6 linked regions of the Homo sapiens genome follow. The protein of the gene in region 1 interacts with the protein of each later gene in a pairwise test. Each region holds a gene or a part of one and is shown on either strand. Other genes may lie near its edges. The genes, in order: PRDX3, MUC7, LRRK2, TNFRSF1A, RPS6KC1 and MAGEA11.

Evidence for each region.
Region 2: the proteins of PRDX3 (region 1) and MUC7 interact in a two-hybrid assay, tested with the Homo sapiens proteins (one study listed by IntAct).
Region 3: the proteins of PRDX3 (region 1) and LRRK2 interact in binary tests that used the Homo sapiens proteins (3 or more experiments, as listed by UniProt).
Region 4: the proteins of PRDX3 (region 1) and TNFRSF1A interact in a two-hybrid assay, tested with the Homo sapiens proteins (one large-scale study listed by BioGRID and IntAct).
Region 5: the proteins of PRDX3 (region 1) and RPS6KC1 interact in a two-hybrid assay, tested with the Homo sapiens proteins (one large-scale study listed by BioGRID and IntAct).
Region 6: the proteins of PRDX3 (region 1) and MAGEA11 interact in a two-hybrid assay, tested with the Homo sapiens proteins (one large-scale study listed by BioGRID and IntAct).

The regions. Positions count from the first base shown.
Region 1 is NC_000010.11:119,168,813-119,172,312, forward strand, and holds part of PRDX3 (thioredoxin-dependent peroxide reductase, mitochondrial isoform a precursor), read right to left. Parts: intron 531-3,500; coding exon 365-530; intron 1-364. UniProt on the Homo sapiens protein: Thiol-specific peroxidase that catalyzes the reduction of hydrogen peroxide and organic hydroperoxides to water and alcohols, respectively. Plays a role in cell protection against oxidative stress by detoxifying peroxides.
Region 2 is NC_000004.12:70,470,724-70,474,996, forward strand, and holds the start of MUC7 (mucin-7 precursor), read left to right. Parts: upstream 1-1,473; 5' UTR 1,474-1,568; intron 1,569-3,283; 5' UTR 3,284-3,298; coding exon 3,299-3,352; intron 3,353-4,273. UniProt on the Homo sapiens protein: May function in a protective capacity by promoting the clearance of bacteria in the oral cavity and aiding in mastication, speech, and swallowing. Binds P.aeruginosa pili.
Region 3 is NC_000012.12:40,227,997-40,231,496, reverse strand, and holds part of LRRK2 (leucine-rich repeat serine/threonine-protein kinase 2), read right to left. Parts: intron 1-3,500. UniProt on the Homo sapiens protein: Serine/threonine-protein kinase which phosphorylates a broad range of proteins involved in multiple processes such as neuronal plasticity, innate immunity, autophagy, and vesicle trafficking.
Region 4 is NC_000012.12:6,339,277-6,343,394, forward strand, and holds the start of TNFRSF1A (tumor necrosis factor receptor superfamily member 1A isoform 1 precursor), read right to left. Parts: upstream 2,801-4,118; 5' UTR 2,539-2,800; coding exon 2,500-2,538; intron 1-2,499.
Region 5 is NC_000001.11:213,271,241-213,275,274, forward strand, and holds the end of RPS6KC1 (ribosomal protein S6 kinase delta-1), read left to right. Parts: intron 1-1,283; coding exon 1,284-1,394; 3' UTR 1,395-3,534; downstream 3,535-4,034. UniProt on the Homo sapiens protein: May be involved in transmitting sphingosine-1 phosphate (SPP)-mediated signaling into the cell. Plays a role in the recruitment of PRDX3 to early endosomes.
Region 6 is NC_000023.11:149,715,060-149,717,768, forward strand, and holds the end of MAGEA11 (melanoma-associated antigen 11), read left to right. Parts: intron 1-544; coding exon 545-618; intron 619-693; coding exon 694-1,717; 3' UTR 1,718-2,209; downstream 2,210-2,709. UniProt on the Homo sapiens protein: Acts as androgen receptor coregulator that increases androgen receptor activity by modulating the receptors interdomain interaction. May play a role in embryonal development and tumor transformation or aspects of tumor progression.

The sequences.
Region 1 (3,500 bases):
TAAAATTCAAAAAATTAGCCGTGGTGGTGGGCGCCCTGTAGTCCCAGCTACTCAGGAGGCTGAGGCAGGACAATGGCGTGAACCCAGGAGGCGGAGCTTGCAGTGAGCTGAGAGAGCGCCACTGCACTCCAGCCTGGGCGAGAGCAAGACTCCGTCTCAAAAAAAAAAAAAAAGGCCTGCCTGTCTCTGATAATTGGTTCCTGGCTCCCCACCCCACCCCCTCTACCCCACAGCAGCTTCACCCATTTGCATATCATCTGCACGCTTGCTTCAAGAGTGGGCTCCCTTTTGTGGATATTTCAGGTCAATAGCTCTCGAGGCTGAGAGAACATGGACCTCACTGCTTTTGGGGAAAAAAACCTACCGTAGGAGAATCCGGTGTCCAGTTCGCTGGGCAGACTTCTCCATGTGTTTCTACATACTGGAACGCCTTCACCAAGCGGAGGGTTTCTTCCACGCTTCGGCCCACTGGGAGATCGTTGACGCTCAAATGCTTGATGACTCCATTGGGGTCAATTATGAAGAGACCTCTGCATGATCATTTATCCTCATCAGTGCCTCAACAGTACCAGAACTAGAACAGTCTAACTTCTTCCCTTTTAGGTCTTTAATTCTCCTTTTAATAAAATATTTATTAAGCGTAATCATATGCTTAAAGGTGGGGTTTTCACTGTTGTGCAAAAAACTTATCATCTCTTACTGATGACAGATGCTTTAACAAAGGCAGTACTGGACCAGGTCACCATAAAACATGCAGTATGGTCACACTTACAAGTTCACATAGTGCCCTGAATGTTACACAGTATCGGAAAGTCACTGAACTAGAGAGAGCAAAGACTATTAGTGACTTGGCAAGCATTCTTTGAGCTGCTGTATCACATCTTGGCAAGAAACTTATAGGCAAATGGGAAGAGACAGAGGTGTATTTTATCTAGGTTCAACAACTGTTTATTATGAATGAATTATTGGGTAAATGGGGGGAAATCCCACGGGAAAAATCTTCATAGAAAGAATGTACAGGCTCTAAGTCTATGCAAAACAGAAAACCATGCCCATCACTTTTAATCATGTAGCAGCATGTAATGAGATGAACCACGCTACCACAGTGGTCTGTGTTTATCTTCTGTGTTGGTGTTACTGTGACAGATGCAGATATGTTTAGCCTAGAAGTTTTTTTGGTTGTTTGGTTTAAATATAGGGTCTCACTGTATTGCCCACGCTGGAGTGCAGTGCTCTTCTCAGGTGTGATCACAGCAGGCTGCAGCCTCGAACTTCTGGCTCAACTGATCCTCCCACCTCAGACTCCCAAGTAGCGTGACTATAGGTGTGTGTCACTGTGTCCGGTTATTTAACCTACAGGTTTTAACAGTCTGTCTTAAAAGGATGTGGAAATTTCAGGTATCAATCACTCATGGAAAAGGCAGGTTAGAGAAAACTCAGGATAAAAGATGCTTCTCCCTCCCTGGGTCAGGCACTGGGAGCCTGGGGTTTGAGGTGAAACTGTTCCCAGAGGGTGCAGCCAGCTGAAGTCCACCAATAGAAGGTGAGGCAGAGCTGGGACAGAGCAGGGCCCATAGACTCCCAAAAGTCTTTATCTTATAAGCCAGACTCAGCTTCTCTCTCTTGTTAATCTCAATATTAAAACGGGTACAGAGGTAACTGCAAAATTAGTGAGTTCTCATAGGGAAAGGGACCGTAGGAGAAAAATAGCCAGTACCCTTTCTCTGGCCATTGACAATTCTGAAAGACCTAGGCATTCGTTTGATAATCTCTTTAAAGTTTAAAAAAAAAAAAATGGTCTGCCAGGTGCGGTGGCTCATGCCTGTAATCCCAGCACTTTTGAGAGGCCGAGGCAGGCAGATCACGAAGTCAAGAGTTTTGAGACCAGCCTGGCCAACACGATGAAACCCCATCTCTACTAAGAATACAAAAATTGGCCGGGCGTGGTGGCGTGTGCCTGTAATCCCAGCTACTCGGGAGGCTGAGGCAGGAGAACTGCTTGAACCCGGGAGGTGGAGGTTGCAGTGAGCCGAGATCACGCCACTGCACTCCAGCCTGGGCGATAAAGCAAGACACCGTCTCGAAAAGAAAAGAAAAAAAAAAAAAGAGAGGAAAAAAAGGCCCAAACTCTAAGATGCCACTCAGCGCTAAAACCCAAGGTGTAACCCAAGAAAGAGCAGGCCAGAGGTCACCTACAAGACAGGCAGGTGAGCTGGCTTTGTTTGTTTGTTTGTTTGTTTGCTTTTGAGACAGAGTCTTGCTCTGTCGCCCAGGCTGGAGTGCAGTGGTGCGATCTCAGCTCACTGCAAGCTCCACCTCCCAGGTTCACGCCATTCTCCTGCCTCAGCCTCCCGAGTAGCTGGGACTACAGGCGCCCACCACCACGCCCAGCTAATTTTTTGTATTTTTAGTAGAGACGGGGTTTCACCATGTTGACCAGGATGGTCTCGATCTCTTGACCTCGTGATCCACCTGCCTCGGCCTCCCAAAGTGCTGGCATTACAGGCCTGAGCCACCGCGCCCGGCCAGGTGAGCTGGCTTTAAGCTGACCAGCCCCCAGCAAAACTGTGAGGCACAGCACATCAAAGGGGGATCCCCTCTCTTCCTTCCTGGAGGTCAAGTTCTGCCCTATCCCTCCTTCACTCCTATTCTCAGCAGACTTCAAGATGCCAATTCTAAGACCCAAGTTCTCATCCCTCCCAGGAAGGTTATGTTTGAATGTGGGGCTGCTGAGGACTGAAAGCTTTTCACACTCAAAGGAATAAAGGTTTAATAAGGGACTGAATACAGATAGAAATGATGTTCTGGGGCAGAAATCCTAACAACTGCTGCCAGTAACTATGCTAAAAACTCTAGCTGTGTCACTATTTAATCCTCACACCCACCTGTGACGTACCACCTCATTTTAGTTATGGGAAAACTGGGGCTCAACAAGGTTAAATCAAATCAGTTGCCCAAAGTCACACAGCTATTAAGTAGCTGAGTTAAAAAAAAGAAAAACTCAAACCAAGGATTGTTTGGTTCCAGGGCTGAAGATGGTCACCATTCCAAGAGACTACCTCTTACCCTGCTAGTCCCCCCTTCTGCAGAGTCTGATGGCTTCAATGTCAGGTGTGTGTCCCCATGGAAGTGGCTCCCACATAGTTAGGGAGTATGGAGCAGTGTGGCCTCAAGACGCAGCCAGCCTTCTTCAGAAAGAGACCCAAGGTGGTGGAGGGGACATGCATGTCTCAGCATTTCTGAGAGACCGCCAACCCTTGCAGGAGGCATTTCATCAGTGTTTATTAAAGACTAAAATTAAGGATTGATTATTATAAATTTTAATTCTTTTTAATATAATAGGGATGAGGTCTCACTATGTTGCCCAGGCTGGTCTTGAACTTCTGAACTCAAGTGATCTTCCCGCCTTGGCCTCCCAAAGTGCTACGATTACAGGCATGAGCCACCATGCCCAGCCAGGATCTTCTGGTTTTAAAAATGCTTTACCAAGGTCTACATAA
Region 2 (4,273 bases), on another chromosome or scaffold:
TAACTATAACAAGTATATTGTAAATGCATATCACTAGTTGCTAGCAAAAAAAGATGAAAAGAAATTAATATTATAGCCCATATTTACTAACTCATTGCTATCTCAAAAACTGTCCCTAACTTTCCACTAATGGCAGCATAATAGCTGAGGGTGTTCCATTCAAAAGAACCATGTCAGAACTTTTAACTTATCTACTTTCAGTCTGACAACTTTGTAAAGTAGATGTCACACCTAATTAGCAGATAGAAAAACTGAGGCTCAAAGAAGTTAGCTAACCTGTCAAAAATTACATGGCTACTAAGTGGAGAAGCAAGGAATCAAACCCAAAGAATGTAAGCCCTCAGAGACTGTATGTGCAAAAGAACAAACTGACTAGCTAGAAGTGGAATCACACCTTCAAAACTGTATTCCAGATTAACGATTTTACATAGTAGAAATATCTAATTTTGAAGATCTCTATTAAAATGATTCTTAAGTTCTTTTTTAAGTTATTAAGTTTCTTTTTAAAAATAAATATTTATAAAATGACTAGTCTAGCTATCAAAATATCACTACCATGGGGGAAATGGGAGAAAATTTTCTGGGATAAAAGAAACTAGAGACATAACAAGTCACTGCAACACACGGCCCTTAGTTGAGTCCTGGTAGGAACAAAATGACTAAAAATATTTTTGCCAAAATTTGAGTATAAACTCAATTTTAGATTATATGTTTGAATTATTAATATTGTTATAGGTTGATGGTGTTGTGTTATAAAAGAAAGGCTTTTTAGAGAGAAATGCTGAAATAGAGAGTAGCTGTTACAATTTCTGTAGTTTACCTTAAGATACTTCAGCAAAACAACTAAGATATATAGCAAAATGTTAAGAATTATGAAAACCAGGGAATGAGTATATAGTTCTACTACCCTCCTCACTTTTCTATATGTTTGAATATTTTTCAAGACAAAAAGTCAAAAATTGTTTTTAATTACTTGTATTTAAAAATTCAGTGTTGATTTTTTGGCTTTAAATACTGCCCTGCACCAGTACTTGGCACCACAGTATTTTTTTTAAATCCTCTGTCCTTTATTAACTTGTCTTATTGACAAGGAAATATGGTGTTCCATCACATTAACTGTCAGAAGGCAATCACTCTGCTTACTTTGAGAGCCCAACAGGAAAGAGTGGATGATCTGTTCCTGTTGGGAGGACCTGGGCCATGGTTGTTTGTTTCTCCGTAAGCGCCTTCAATTACTGTTCCACTACTCATCAAGCACATAAGTTACTCATTGAGAACCTCTGATCGTCACTGTGCTCATCAGGAAGAAATTGATGCACAAAGAACTACTGTCAATCTCAGCAAACCACAACTATTCTTTTCTTTAAAAGTAAATTCCTTGACACAAATGACCTTATCTTAAATCTAATAGATTTCCTATTTCCAAAAAGCTCGACTGGAGTGTTATAAAACCTGAAAATTCTCTTGTGCTTTCTCTTCTTTTGCTTCTAGTTACCATCCTCAAAGGATTGGCTAAAAGCAAGCAACTGGATTGAACACCCTAAGAAGAAAGATTCACACTGCACCAGGTATGTGGATACTTTAGATAGGTTCTAATATAAACTAAACAGCTTTCAAGTAATATACATATATTAAGTAATAGCAATAGTTGTTCTAATACAGTTATTCTCCTCTCTTCTTATGAACTGCCAAACAGTGTGGTAACACTCAATTCATATGTTATTAGAACACAATATGATTGGTAGGAATGTTTTTTGGTCTTGAAATTTAAAAACAAATCTGACAATATATTAGGAACCTGAAGAATAATAAGTAACCATTTCGTTTTTCAATTGGGTCAGATTGTTTTCTTCTTAGTGTGCTAGTACTATAATAATACCACTGAGACTTTATTATGGATAAGACATTATTCTCAGTACGATTTGTAATATATATATTATTCCAGTCAATCCTCAGGACATTCTTATGATGTAAGATTGCAACTCACTCAAAGTCATGCAGTGAGTGGCAGAGTCACACAGTAAGTGGGCAGAGCTTAAATCAAGTCTCTGACTGACTCTAACACCCATTTTATAAACCATGGGATTGTATTGTAAAGTGTGTCTAATCTCACAGCCCACCACATTGACATGCACACTAATTACCTGCCCTAATATGTAATCTGTCTATATGATTTAACCTTTATTTTGTTTTCTAAAGCTGATAAGCTGACATGTACACATTACATATATAACCAAAATGAGAAAAACAAAAGACCACATTCTTCTCTCACTCTTCCCTTCTACAACCTATAGCCAAAATACAATTCTCTTTTGCAAGTAGTTATTCAAAAAAAATATGTATTAAGTCTGCACTATGTACTAGGCATGATGACATAACAATGAATAAAGAATAATTCCTGTCATTTTGGGACTTAGAAAAAGGGTATCGGCCAGACACGGTGGCTCACACCCGTAATCCCAGAATTTTGGGAGGCCGATGAGGGTGGATTGCTTGAGCCCAGGAGTTCAGGACCAGCCTGGGCAACACAGTGAAACCGTGTCTCTACAAAAAATAAAAATAATAATAGCAATAGCCAGGAGCGGTGGTGCATGACTGTAGTCCAAGCTACTAGGGTGGCCAAAGTGAGAGGATCGCTTGAGTCTGGGGGGTGCAGGCTGCAGTGAGCCATGCGTGTGCCACTTCACTCCAGCCTGGACAACAGAGCGAGACTCTGTCTCAAAAAAAAAAAAAAGGTACAAGAAAAAGGATTATCAAATGGCAAAATCTTCAGTAGAATGAAATTGGAGGAAGAGTCCATTTGACCTGGTTCTTTGTTCCAAGTGACAGCCTTATAGCACAGCGACAAAGAGCATTTTCCTCTAACATCAGGAGTCTTTGCAAAACTGTGTAGTATCAGGTCATTTATATGATGGTTCCCCACAGAGGGGAGCTTCCTGAATTAGAAAAGAAATAAGAAGAAAATTATTTCCTTTTCTTATTGCTAAACTTCCTAAGATCCTGCCTTTCCTAGCCAATCTTTAATATCAATAGAAAATGCTCATTTTGCAAACTAGTTAGAATAATTCTTGAGCCTCCTCCATTGCTTCCTCTCTAAAAGAATGCATTTTAGGCCTGAAGCAATTTTGCATCACCCCTATGGAATGAAAATGTATACATAATTTTCAGAAACCATTGGTCTCTTTTTGCCTGTACTTTCTAATAAAAATAAGTTATTTACCAAAACGCATTCCTCTCCCATAATATCATAACTAATAGTACGCCACATTTCTGCTTTTCCCAGGAGACATCAGAAAGAATGAAAACTCTGCCGCTGTTTGTGTGCATCTGTGCACTGAGTGCTTGCTTCTCGGTAAGTATTCACCCAAATAAGTTTTTTCCTTAACTATCAATAACAAACATTTAGTGTACCTACCTGAGACTTTTAAAGCATAATAGGCAACCCCTATTTCCAAGAAGCTTGACATCTTTTATTTCCAGGAAACCTATAAATATGGACAATTGGCCGGTGCACTGGCTCACACCTCTAATCCCAGCACTATGGGAAGCCTAGGAGGGAGGATCACTTGAGCTCAGAGAAGTTCAAGACTAGCCTGAGTAACATAATGAGACAGTATCTCCACAACAACAACAACAACAAAATTTAATTAGCCAGGTGTGGTGGTGCGTGCCTGTAATCCCAACTACTCGGAGGCTGAGGTTGGGATCTTAAGCCTGGGAGGTCAAGGCTGCAGCAAGCCGTAATCATACCACTATGCCACAGCCTGGGTGACAAAATGAGACCCTGTCTTAAAAATATATACAGATAGGTAGATAGACTAGATAGATAGGTAGATAGACTAGGTAGGTAGGTAGGTAGGTAGGTAGATAGAGCATAAGGAAATAATTTGTTTCATTTATCCAATATCTATAGAGCACAAACTTTATAGTGAGTGTGATGAGAACTGACACAGATGAAAACCCAGGTTTGTAAGGCCTTTAGGTCTTGGTGTGGAATATGGTTTCAAATCTGTCAGGAAGTCTCAGCATGATCAAAGCACTCCCAGGGGATTTACATGACAGGATTCTCAGGAGAAGATAGGTAGCAGGTAACAAAAGCTGAGATAAGGAGACTAGTCAGGAAGCTATGGCAGTGGTCCAGATAAAAGATGATGGTGACTTGCACTAAATTTCAGCAATTAAAAGATAAGAGTGGGTTTAGGATATATTTTAGTGATTGAGTCTACTATATCTTCTGCTGGATTGTATATGTGGTAAAAGAAAGAAATGAACA
Region 3 (3,500 bases), on another chromosome or scaffold:
GCCTAGAACTCCTGTCCTTAGGTGATCCACCCACTTCAGCCTCCCAAGTAGCTGGGACTACAGGTATGTGCCACCACACCCAGCTAATTTTTTTTTTTTTTTTTTTGTGAAGACAGGGGTCTCGCTCTGTTGCCCAGGCTGGTCTCAAGCTCCTGGGCTCAAGCAATCCTCCTGACTTGGCCTCTCAAAGTGCTGGGATTACAGGCGTGAGCCTCTGCACCTGGCCCTTAGTAGGTTTTAAGTCATATCTACCTGACAGAATTTCCTCCACATATTTAAAATTTTAATTATAGGAAAAAATGAAGTGGCTTATAATGAAGGATTAGGTGAAGTTGGAGATTTTAGTAGCAAAATGTAAGTTATCAGAATGGCTGCTCCCCAAGTAATGAAGCTAGAATAATAGAGGCAAGAAACGTGGCATTTTTAGCAATTGAATCTACATCTGATAGGAGAAAAAGAGAAAGAGCTCTATAAAATAGACAGGAGGTAGAACTCCTCAATGGCTCCCTCCAGATTTCTCTAGAATGAATTGATAAGGTCTAGAGATCACAGACACCCCTAGTAGGCTCTTTCACATTTCGAAATAAAATATGAAATTATAGATGCATTTTAAGTATATCTTCACTCAGTCTGTTTACAAGATGCCAACTTGACTAAGTTGCTCTTTACCTCTGAAAAAAAAATTGAAAGTCCTGATTTCAAACCGGAGATGAAAATTAACCTATTCTTCCTACTGTAGACTCCTCCCTCTCTAAATGTAAAGGATCTCCAATTCATTCTATTATACTATAGAACTATACTTGACATGGTCAAAAAAAAAAAAAAAAAGAGAAAGTGCATATATGTACCCTCTAGAGACTAATGGAAAAGTATCTAAGTGTGATGTGTAATAAATACCAATATAATAGAAATACTGAAAGTAAGACTCAGTGTGAGTTGAAATTACTCAGAGAAGAATATAATATGAAGAGGTAGAGCTTAAGCCAGATTGTATAAGAACGGATGAGCGGTGAGGAGAGTAGGCTGCTACATGATAAGGAAGCTGCTACAGGGAAGAGGCTATTTTGGGATAAGGCTGGATGCATAAGTAAAGTTGAATATTGCAAGGAGTTGAATGACAAGGTGAGAAATCTATATGCACCCAATAAGGAATAATGGCACAAGTTTCTTACTCGCTTACGGGAGTAAACAACGGCTATTTTAGGAAGATAAAAATGATTACTCAAGATCTCTTTACAATATTACTTTTGGATCTTTTCCAGATTAAACATAAATTGCTTTATTTTGTCATTACTTCCTTTTACATAATTTCAAATTGCTTTCAAAGGCGGCAATTTCTGATAGCTATTTCTACCTATACTACTCAAGTAGGACATCCTCCTCCACGTAAGCTGAACAGACGTTGACAATCCAGCTGTCATAGAAACTGACTATTTTTGTGCTTTCATAGAATACATCAAGACTTTTTTCCGAACTATTTAAGAAAATAACATTCTGAACAGCTTCTGGTGGTAAAAAAAAAAAAAAAAAAAAAAAAAAAAGTCACATAGGATGCCAAACTCATCTCTGTACCTACAAAGCTGACTCAAGGAAAAAACCTGTTTGTTTTGGTTGGTGAAGCAACAGTATCAGTAAACGCTTTGCAAAAAGATTCAGGCAACTGAGCTCTCCAGCACTACATGGAACTTCTGTGATTAAATAGAATCTCTGGCAGCAAAGCAGAGGTAACAATTGATCCATTAATCTATTCAATTAAAAGCTTATCTCTCTAAGAGAGAAGGTTCCCATCTTGCACAGTTACAATACAATTAAATTGGTAGTTTTACTTTATTATAATTATTCTAAAAACTCAAGCATGTAATTAATGCACAACAGGAAAGAGTCTAGGGGTTAAAGAAAAAATTTTAGCCACTTTCATTTATTTTGCTCCCCTTCTTCAAAGGTTGAACCCTTGAGAATAAAGAGATGTAAAATTTAGGAGCACAGTGAAAAGATAGGCAGGAAAAGAAAAATATAAAGCACCTAGCTTAACCGTCAATTTTCTAAAGACTGTCATTTATGAAGAAACATTAATAAAATATGAAACAAACTTTGAAAATAAAACTGGCAGTCTGGAATATCATGTTAAATGGCATCTAGAAACAAACCTTAATCTTTATTTTAAATAGTAATTAAGAATTACTATTAAATTAAATGAAGGAGAAATTTACCTTAATACCTTAAATTTATCATTAAGAGTTTTTCTTTTGGCACTTCCAGCTAATTCAACATATAAAGCAGTAAAGGATACTTACAGTAATTATACTAATAATATAAAGAAATCTGAAGGAAAAATACTACTTTTAAGTGAGTATTAAAATGTCAGTAGGAGACCCCTTTCTACATCCCCTTGTTAAGACCAATGATAATTTAAATTGATGTCATTGTACCTAGCATGGCCACAGTATTTGTATCAAACCATTTTGCTTTTTACTAGCTTGCACAAAAAGCTTGCGAATTCAGCAGCTAGTAGATTGTATGATGGAAAGAGATTTTGAAGGTGTGAGAAGACTTGAGTCTTAGGTCTGTCACAAGCTCTTTGATCCTCAGTGAGCAGCTTACTCTCACTTCGCTATGACAGTAAAACATCCGGTAATATTTCCAGGAGGGCAGTGAGATTTCAGTGAGAATCAAATATTGGCTGTGCAAAAGAAGGAAACTAGATCCACAGCTTTCACCATATACACAAATCATTTCAAAATGGATTAAAGACTTACATCTCAGACCTGAAAATATGCAACTACTAGAAGAAAACACTGGGGAAATGCTACAGGACATTGGTCTGTGCAATGATTTTTGGGGTAGGACCTCAAAAGCACAGGCAATTACAACAAAAATAGGCAAATGGGATTATATCAAGCTAAAAAGCTTCTGCACAACAAAGAAAATAATTAACAAAGTGAAGAGACAACATAAAGAAAGGGAGAAAATATTTGCAAAATATCCATTCAACAAAAGATTAACAACCAGAATACATAAGGAACTAAAAAAACTCAATTAGCAAAAAAAAAAAAAAAAAAAAAAGTCTTATTTTTAAATGGACAAAAGATCCAAATAGACATTTCTCAAAAGAAGACAGACAAATGGCTAACAGGTACATGAAAAAAAAATCCTAAACTTCACTAATCATTAGGGAGAGGCAAATCAAAACCATAATGAGATATTATCTCACCACAGGCAGAATGGCTATTATCAAAAAGACAAAAAATAACAAATGCTGGTAAGGATGCAGAAAAAGGGGAATGGTGGTACACTGCTGATGGGAATATAAAGTAGCACAGCCATGATGAAACACAGTATGGAGGTATCTTAAAAAACTAAAAAGAGAATTTTCATATGATCCAGTAATCTCATCGCTGGGTATATATCCAAAAAAAGAACATCAGTATATCAAAGATATATCTGAACTCCCATGTTTATTGCAGCCCTGTTCACAATAGTTAAAATACAGAATCACCTTA
Region 4 (4,118 bases), on another chromosome or scaffold:
ACTTTTCTATGAGGCTTTCCCTCCGCCATCCCATCTGACACATCTCTTGTTCCTTAATTCCTTCAGCAAATAGTTAAGGGGCACAGTTAATGTGACAGGTCCCGTATGGGTGCTAGGGATGCTGAGGTGGATAATACACAGCTCGTGCTCTCAAGAGCTCTCACTTGAGTCAAAGACAGTCAGTTGTAGGCACTGAGATCTATACAGGGAGTGCTGCAGTTGCACAGTGAAGGACACTGAAGCAGCGTGGGGAAGCTCCTGAATTTTCTGGAGCTGAGCGCAGGAGCTGAGACCTGCTAAGCAAGGAAAGGCAGTGGACTAAGGCTCACCTCCTTCCCCAGTTCCTCCTCCTCCCAACTGGTGCTCCAGGACACCACATCACAATGCATTTGTGGATATTTTCCTCGGGATTGCTCTGAAATCATTTTTCACTGTAAGCCATCTTGGTTACTAGGCTGTAAGCTCTTTGAGAGCAGCAAAATCCTGTTTGCTTTGCCACAGTCTCTCCTGTATCATTCTTCCCTACTCCCCTACCCCACTTCTCTCTCTCTCTCTCTCTCTCTCTCACACACACACACACACACACACACACACACACACTGTGAGCTCTGCATTGCCCACTGAATGGTGAGAAATTCAGAAGGATGTTGCATTCCCTTTGTTTTCCCTTTCCTCCAGCTCCAGGCCAGGCTTCTGTCCCTTAGGAGACATAATCCCACCTGGGCTGAAGCACCCCAGGACGCAGGCACTTCCCTTTACCTGTTCAGGCTACCTTTACCCTCTGTTTTCCCAACACAGGTAGCCACCCAGTAATTACTACTAGTCACAGCAATATAAAAACTTTATTGAGTGCTTTCTATTTGCTACAACCTATTCCCCTGATGGACTGTCAAAGCTGTGGGCAGGGATTTTGTTCTCTGCTGTAATCCCAGCACCTATCACAGTGTCTAGCCCAGAGCGCACACTTAATAAATCAAATGAACACTTAACATGTATCAGTCTATTCAATCTTCAAAACAACAGTATGAGGTCAAGACTGTGACACCCATTTTGGAGATAAAGAAACGAAGGCATGGAAGGTTAGGTTATATAAGCTGCTCTTGTTCATGCAGGAGGTATGTGAGGGAGCCAGGGGCCGCCCCCAAACAGAAAACAGAAGCAGGATGTCAGGGCAGCTGGCTGGTGGGGAGACCGTGGGGGAAGGACAGTGGGAAGAAGGGAAGAGCGGGTGGGACTAAGGAGGCAGGAGGAGGCAGAAGAAGAAGAGTGAGACCCTGACCAGAGACGTGCTGCCTGGGGACCTGGGGCCGGGACCAGAGCGGAGCAGAGAGGAGGGGAAGGAGGATTAGCGAGAAAAGATTTCAAAAAAAGAGGCTCTGAGAAGTCTGAGGAGAGTCTGGGGAGATTGCTGGAAGAAAGGAATGGTAGGAGAGGAAGAGTATAAGGCACTAAAGAGAGGGGAGGTAGGCGCAGCCTTCAGAGGCCGGGCAGGGCAGGGAAAATCTGCCTGACTAGATGGGCCCAGGACATCTGAACAGGATGATTCCCGGACCAAGACGTGGAGGACGATCAAGGATACATTGAAACAAGGCTGAGGCCAGAGAAAGGGACATTTTCCAGTGACGAAAACAACTTTCTACCAACTTCCCCAAACTGAACTGTAGAATAAGAAACCAAGGGATTGTTGTTTAGGTCTGTGAGAAGCAGCGGGGAGGGGAAGCTGGAGGACAGGCCCAGGGACACTGACCAGGTGGGGGTAGGACTAGCTCCCTGGGAAGGCTCAGTCCCACAGCGGCTACCTGCCTAGCAGCAGGCAAAAGGGTAAAGAATGTCCCCAGGTGAGAGGCCGGGGCTTGGCCAGGGCACTGGGGACACTGTCCACTGGGTTGCCCTGCCCCATCCAGTGTCCCAGCCCATTCTCAAATACCTCCCACCATGAGCATCCCAAACCCACCACACCAGCCCATCCCCACTCCTCAACTCACTCCCCCACTTCACCAGCCGCCAAAATCCTGCCCTACAGGGTGTGCTCCACCAAGTTCCACAGGCAGCCTCGCCTCCCCACGGCCCAACACCCTCCAGGCCAGCCAGCTGACCGGAGGGACAGAATTCAGAACCGTCTGGACTCCCCGAGCACTAATCTTCCTACTCCCACTCCCTTCTTTTCCCCGCCAAATCTGCCCCACCCTGGGCCTATCTCCTGCCCACATTCCCTTGGCCGCCCACAAACTTCCACCGCTGTCAGGGGCCAGGGCTTCCTTTTACTCTCTCCCTTTCAAACTTCTCCCATTCCCCTGCCTCAGCGCAGCCCCTACTCCAAAAGGCGGATGAATGGGGAACCCCACACTGGCAGTGGCTGAGGTTAGGACCTGCAGGCCTGAGGCTGGCGCCAGGACCAGGCCCGGGCAGGAGAGGCTCGGCCCCCTCCCGGAGAGGGCCCACGCCAGCCGGAAGGTGCCTCGCCCACCAGCCCACTCTTCCCTTTGTCCCTGGTCTCACCAGTGGCAGCAGCAGGTCAGGCACGGTGGAGAGGCCCATGCCAGACAGCTATGGCCTCTCACTCCCCCATTTGGGCTCAGGGCAGTGTGGCAGCGGCAGTGCTGGGGCTTCCCGGGACTCGGTCTGTCCAGGACGTCCCAAGTGCCTTGGGGTGACAGTTGAGGGTTGAGACTCGGGCATAGAGATCACGGCCTGGTCCCAGTGATCTTGAACCCCAAAGGCCAGAACTGGAGCCTCAGTCCAGAGAATTCTGAGAAAATTAAAGCAGAGAGGAGGGGAGAGAAGGTGGGAGGGGAAGAGTGAGGCAGTGTTGCAACAGCGGGACAGGAAGAGCTGGAGGAGGAGGCCACAGGAGGCGGGAGGAGGAGGCCCAACGTTCTTTAACTCTTTGTAGTCCAGTCACAAGCACAGGAGTCCCAGATCTGGCTGCCTTGTGCCCCCAACCCACCAATCCGACCACTCCCAACCAAACACCAAGGGGCAATAAGCCCCTTGCCCACATCACTAGCCTTTCCCAGATGGATCACAGCAGTGAAAAGATCCAGAGTCTGGGAGTCAAATTCTCTGGGTTCCAATTCAGAATGCTTAGCTTTTTAGCTAAGAATGTGTCTTGGACACATAAATGAACTTCTCAGACACATAACTGAAACTGTCTGGATCTGTTTTCCAATTTGCAGAGTGGAGATAACCTGTCTCCTGGGGTTCCTGTAAGGATTTGTTCAGATGGGAGAGATATAGATAAGCGTCCGACACATGATAGGTACTCCATGTCCCTTAGTAATCCTCCCCTTTACTCCAGAGTTCTTCACTAGCCTCCTAGTCTCCCTCTTTCTTGGGAATTTACTGATCCAATCCAAAACTCAAAGTAAGTCCCAACCCTCGTTTTCTGCCCTGACTGGGTGCCTGCCATTCCTCACCCCAGGTCTCATCCAGTCTCTGCCTGGCCAGGTCCCCCCACCCTGCCCCACTGTTGATCCTGGCTCTGCCACCAATCATGCGACATCAGGCAACTCCTCTCCTAAGCCTCTGTTGGTTCCTTGTTTATTAAACAGGGGTAACAATGTCTGCCCACCTACATGGGGAAAGTGATGCCATGAGAATCAATGAGACGTATCCACGAAGCTGCCGTGGAAATAAAGATACCTCCATCAGGTGTTCCTAGCATATTCCCAGTGCCCTTTTCCTAAATATTCCAATACATCAATTATAACTCACCTTACAGATCATCGACTACAACCCCCTAGGTTTTTTTATTTCTTCGTTTGCTTGTTTTTCATTTTTGTTTTTGTTTTGAGGGTCCGCTCCGTTTCCCAGGCTGGAGTGCAGTGGTACCATCGCAGCTCACTGCAGCCTCGACCTCCCAGGTTCAAGTAATCCTCCCACCTCAGCCTCCCAAGCAGCTGGGACTATAGGTGCATACCACCACGCCTGGGTAATTTTTGTATTTTTTGTAGAGACAGGGTCTCACCATGTTACACAGGCAGGTCTTGAACTCCTGGGCCCAAATGATCTGCCCACCTCAGCCTCCTAAAGTGCTAGGATTACAGGTGTGAGCCACCGTGCCCACCCAACTGCCCGGTTTTATAGAGGAGAAAACTGAGGTCCAGAAACCCAATGTG
Region 5 (4,034 bases), on another chromosome or scaffold:
AAAAGGAATGGCCTGTTGATACCTGCTACAGTGTGGATGAATCTCAGAAACATAATGATAAGTGAAAGAAGGCAGCGTCAAAAGACTACATATTTTATTATTTTACTTATATGAAATGTTCAGAAAGGGCAACTTTATAGAGACAAAAGGCAGGTCAGTGGTTGCCGAGGGCTGGGGATGGGGGTGGGGATTAACTGTAGATGGCATGAGGAAACTTTTTAGGGTAATCAAAATGTTCTAAAAGGCCGGGTGCGGTGGCTCACGCCTGTAATCCCAGCACTTTGGGAGGCCGAGACGGGCGGATCACGAGGTCAGGAGATCGAGACCATCCTGGCTAACACGGTGAAACCCTGTCTCTACTAAAAATACAAAAATTAGCCGGGCATGGTGGCGCGCGCCTGTAGTCCCAGCTACACGGGAGGCTGAGGCAGGAGAATGACGTGAACCCGGGAGGCGGAGCTTGCAGTGAGTCGAGATCGCGCCACTGCACTCCAGCCTGGGCGACAGAGCGAAACTCCGTCTCAAAAAAAAAAAAAAAAAAAATGTTCTAAAACTGGATTGTGATGCTAGTTGCACAACTCTTTAAATTTACTAAAAGTCATCAAATTGTACACTTATAAGGGATGAATTTATATAAATTATCCTTCAGTAAAGTTGTTAACACAAAAATTTGACATTATTAAACCACAAAATTTTTTTTTACTTATTTTACACATGATTCCTATTTCTGAAGAAACCAAAACTTGTTTCATTCATTATATTAAATTATTTCATTTGTGTCAACTATGCCAAAGACTAGTGATTTTGGAATACTAATCAGCTTATTCACACTTTAGGTAAAGTTTAGTCTCAATACATACATAGTTGATTAGGGGTCGAAAGATTTACTGTGCTTCCCAAATTTTCTAATCATGAAGGAAGTAACTGGCTATCTCAGAATCTAGTGCAATATCTAATTAATGTCATGGTGTACTTTTGGGGTAGGAAATTGATAGGTATAACTATCCTATTATATTACATGAGGATGAGGGAAACAAAGTAAGTTACTCAAGGCCATGTTTCCCATCAGTTGAAAAGCCATAAACTCAGTTCAGGTGTCTCTCACACCCCACAGCTAGAATGGTATTAGACATAGCTCCCTTTCAAGAAAAATGGTCACTTGGCTATTAATCAAGACTGCTTGTTACCAGGGTTGAATTTAGAAGTTGTTTCTTTTCAAATATTGGTTTTCCTTTGATTTGCCAGTTGGATTCCTGTTACTCACTAAGTCCGTCTTTTTTTAGCTCTTGCAGTTCAATCCTCTGGAACGACTTGGTGCTGGAGTTGCTGGTGTTGAAGATATCAAATCTCATCCATTTTTTACCCCTGTGGATTGGGCAGAACTGATGAGATGAACGTAATGCAGGGTTATCTTCACACATTCTGATCTTCTCTGTGACAGGCATCTCCAGCACTGAGGCACCTCTGACTCACAGTTACTTATGGAGCACCAAAGCATTTGGATAAAGACCGTTATAGGAAATGGGGGGGAAATGGCTAAAAGAGAACAATTCGTTTACAATTACAAGATATTAGCTAATTGTGCCAGGGGCTGTTATATACATATATACACAACCAAGGTGTGATCTGAATTTAATCCACATTTGGTGTTGCAGATGAGTTGTAAAGCCAACTGAAAGAGTTCCTTCAAGAAGTTCCTCTGATAGGAAGCTAGAAGTGTAGAATGAAGTTTTACTTGACAGAAGGACCTTTACATGGCAGCTAACAGTGCTTTTTGCTGACCAGGATTGGTTTATATGATTAAATTAATATTTGCTTAATAATACACTAAAAGTATATGAACAATGTCATCAATGAAACTTAAAAGCGAGAAAAAAGAATATACACATAATTTCTGACGGAAAACCTGTACCCTGATGCTGTATAATGTATGTTGAATGTGGTCCCAGATTATTTCTGTAAGAAGACACTCCATGTTGTCAGCTTTGTACTCTTTGTTGATACTGCTTATTTAGAGAAGGGTTCATATAAACACTCACTCTGTGTCTTCAACAGCATCTTTCTTTCCCCATCTTTCTATTTTCTGCACCCTCTGCTTGTTCCCTCATATTCTGTTCTTCCGACTCCTGCTAACACACATGCAACAAAAAAGGGAAGGGAGTGCTTATTTCCCTTTGTGTAAGGACTAAGAAATCATGATATCAAATAAACATGGTGAAACATTAGATCTCTTCTTCATTTAATAACCCTCCCCCCTTTTTTTCCTTGAAGAAATGCGTCTGTTCCTTTCCTTGTGAAATATTATCAGTTTCTACCATTGCTTCTCATGCTTGACTTTGTTTTACTTTTTGGCTTGGTATACTAAGAAGCAAAGGATCTCATCTAAATGGAATTGAATGGCAGTCCTAGTTTGTTACTTATGGTGATGAGATTTTCAGATTTGAACTAATCTATTTGACGTGATTTAGAAAGAATGTAAGTATTCACACATCTCCAAACATTTGTATTTGTTACTTCTTTTTGTTGCTAAGGTAGCTCCTGTAGTTATGCATTGTTGCAAAAATTTACAAATGTTTTAAAAGTGTTAACATCTGTTTTTTTTTAAACGTTAGCCAAAGAAGAAGTCACTATTTCCAAGTTAGAAACCACCAGAAATAATTGAAATTTTTGATATGTTCTAATCTTCTTTGCATTTTTGAGATCTGTGTGAGAGCCCAACCCCACTCCAGGAGCATCTGTACAGCTTCCATCTGCCATCGACCAGGTCCTCTCATCAAATTAAATGGAACAGAAAATGCTCTAGTGAAACAAAGGAAATGTGCAAGCATTTTTCCTTTTTCTATTATTCTATTTCCCTTTTTCCTTTTTGGCCCCCTTATAATCCAAACCCCAGCTGAAAGGCTGCAACAACACCAGGTTGGGGAGCAGGTCACCAGGATCATAGTTCAGTCAAAATGACATCACTCCCTGGAACTAGATTTCAACTCACTAGTCCCCTGGCCTCATAACAGGAACTTATGCAGGTGAGACACAAGAATGACTTCCTGTGTAGGACTAGTAGGAAATCTGCAAGTACTTAGAGCTGGCCATTACAGAACTTCCTTCCAGAAGTGCCCTGTGACATGAAAGTAGGACTTCACAACTAAGGTGAAGATCCCTGCCCTACCACATGATTTGAGTCTCTTGGATTCAAAGGACATTAATGTCAACAGATGGTTGCCATGTCAGTCTGTTGACACAATTCCATTGCTTCAGTTTCTCCCCTTTTCTCTCTATATGTTTGGTTGGAGCTTGTGCCTAATGTAAATACATCATTCATAATTAGAATGGACATTAATTATTTTAGTAATAAACACAGGATAAATAGCTTTGGGGTGATGAACCAGAGTCTGTTTTTATTTTATGGTGTGTACATATTTTAAGCTGTACTTCTGTGAATGGTACTGATTTTTGTGGTTGTTTTTTTTTTATATTTTGTTTGTTTAAGCAGAAGAGTGGAATATGGGGTCAAAATCATAAAAGAAGTTGCCATGAGTGTTTCTCATTTGATTTTTTTATCGTAAAATATACATAACATAAAATTCACCATTTTATCCGTTTTAAAATATACACTTCAGTAGTGGCATTAAGTACATTTTTGTGCGACATCACCACTATCCATCTCCAGGACTTTTTCGGCACCTCAAATGGAAACTCTGTACCCACTAAACAATAACTCCTCCCCATTCCACACTCCAGCTCCTAGCAACCACTATTCCACTTTCTGTCTCTATGAATTTGACTGTGACTGTTCTAAGTACTTCATATAAGCAGAATCATACAATATTTGTTTTTTGTCCTTATTTCACTTAGCAAAAAGTTTTCAAGGTTCGTCCATGCTGTAGCATTTATCAGAATTTCCTCCCTTTTAAGGCTGAATAATATTCCATCATATGTATTACCACATTTTGTTTAGCCATTCATCTGTCAGTAGACATTTGGATTGTTTCTACATTTTGGCTGTTGTGAATAATGCCATTATGAATATTGATGTA
Region 6 (2,709 bases), on another chromosome or scaffold:
GTCACCATCTCTTGCTGTCCTTCCTGGGTAGCCCTGTGTACATGTGGCCAGATGTGTATCCCCACATGTCCTCTTTCATATCAGGAAAGAGCTATTGATCTGAGAGTTTCTCAGGTCAGGAGAGCTGTGTCTTCCAGGCCCTGGCAGGAGAAAGGTGAGGGCCCTGAGCACAGAGGGGACCATCCACTCCAAAAAAGTGAGAAACTCACAGAGTTTGGCCCACCTTTCTGACAGTGCTGGGGTGCCAGGATGGGTGCTTGCAGTCTGCAGCCTGATGGCCCCATGATTCCTCTTCTAGAAGCTCCAAAAACTGAGCAGTGAGGCCTTGGTCTCAAGCAATGTCTTCAGATCTCAGAACACAGGAAGCCTAGGCAGTGCCAGTAGTCAAGATGAGATGTTCACCCTTAATCTACAAATGGCCCCACCTGCCCCAGTACAGAAAGGGACCCCCAGCTTGCAACCTCACCTGCCCTACCTCAGTCCTGGAGCCTCCTGCTCTGATGTCCAGCTGCATCTTGAGCAGCCTTCTCACTTCCTTTTTCAGGTTTTTAGAGAACAGGCCAACCTGGAGGACAGGAGTCCCAGGAGAACCCAGAGGATCACTGGAGGAGAACAAGTGTAAGTAGGCCTTTGTTAGATTCTCCATGGTTCATATCTCATCTGAGTCTGTTCTCACGCTCCCTCTCTCCCCAGGCTGTGGGGCCCCATCACCCAGATATTTCCCACAGTTCGGCCTGCTGACCTAACCAGAGTCATCATGCCTCTTGAGCAAAGAAGTCAGCACTGCAAGCCTGAGGAAGGCCTTCAGGCCCAAGAAGAAGACCTGGGCCTGGTGGGTGCACAGGCTCTCCAAGCTGAGGAGCAGGAGGCTGCCTTCTTCTCCTCTACTCTGAATGTGGGCACTCTAGAGGAGTTGCCTGCTGCTGAGTCACCAAGTCCTCCCCAGAGTCCTCAGGAAGAGTCCTTCTCTCCCACTGCCATGGATGCCATCTTTGGGAGCCTATCTGATGAGGGCTCTGGCAGCCAAGAAAAGGAGGGGCCAAGTACCTCGCCTGACCTGATAGACCCTGAGTCCTTTTCCCAAGATATACTACATGACAAGATAATTGATTTGGTTCATTTATTGCTCCGCAAGTATCGAGTCAAGGGGCTGATCACAAAGGCAGAAATGCTGGGGAGTGTCATCAAAAATTATGAGGACTACTTTCCTGAGATATTTAGGGAAGCCTCTGTATGCATGCAACTGCTCTTTGGCATTGATGTGAAGGAAGTGGACCCCACTAGCCACTCCTATGTCCTTGTCACCTCCCTCAACCTCTCTTATGATGGCATACAGTGTAATGAGCAGAGCATGCCCAAGTCTGGCCTCCTGATAATAGTCCTGGGTGTAATCTTCATGGAGGGGAACTGCATCCCTGAAGAGGTTATGTGGGAAGTCCTGAGCATTATGGGGGTGTATGCTGGAAGGGAGCACTTCCTCTTTGGGGAGCCCAAGAGGCTCCTTACCCAAAATTGGGTGCAGGAAAAGTACCTGGTGTACCGGCAGGTGCCCGGCACTGATCCTGCATGCTATGAGTTCCTGTGGGGTCCAAGGGCCCACGCTGAGACCAGCAAGATGAAAGTTCTTGAGTACATAGCCAATGCCAATGGGAGGGATCCCACTTCTTACCCATCCCTGTATGAAGATGCTTTGAGAGAGGAGGGAGAGGGAGTCTGAGCATGAGATGCAACCAGGGCCAGCGGGCAGGGAAATGGGCCAATGCATGCTTCAGGGCCACACCCAGCAGTTTCCCTGTCCTGTGTGAAATCAGGCCCATTCTTCCCTCTGTGTTTGATGAGAGAAGTCAGTGTTCTCAGTAGTAGAAGGCACAGTGAATGGAAGGGAACACATTGTATACTGCCTTTAGGTTTCTCTTCCATCGGGTGACTTGGAGATTTCTTTTTGTTTCCCTTTGGTAATTTTCAAATATTGTTCCTGTAATAAAAGTTTTAGTTAGCTTCAACATCTAAGTGTATGGATGATACTGACCACACATGTTGTTTTGCTTATCCATTTCAAGTGCAAGTGTTTGCCATTTTGTAAAACATTTTGGGAAATCTTCCATCTTGCTGTGATTTGCAATAGGTATTTTCTTGGAGAATGTAAGAACTTAACAATAAAGCTGAACTGGTGTTGTGAAACAGAGAAATAAAAGGAGAAGGTCATTAATTCTTGTCTTCTTATCCATATTAATCTGTTGTTCTATGAAAGTACACACCCATACACACATGTACACCCCCCTCCCCCCACATACATATTCACCAAGGAAATGCAGTTTCCTACTGAGTTGCAGATTCTCTGAGATGTCCTGGACAATAAAAAATATTCCAAAGTAGAGAGTGGTAGCACCTGGGGTCACAGTAATACTAGAAATAGCTGTCAATCATTAAATATCCAGTACATGCCAGGCATCATCCCAGGTGTTTTAATACATTTTATACATTACAACAGTCCTAAAAAAATGGTCTATCAAACCCATTTTCTGGATGAACCTGAGTCTCATGGTGCTTGGTAACTTTCCCAAGATCATATCACTGGTAAACCACAAGGTTGGCCTGAATTCATCTAGAGCCCATTCTATTCTCACTCTTTGCAGCCTGAAGTACACCTCTGTCCCTTAATTCATTTGTTTTCTCAGTACTGCATAATGTCTCTCAAGTGGCCAAAAG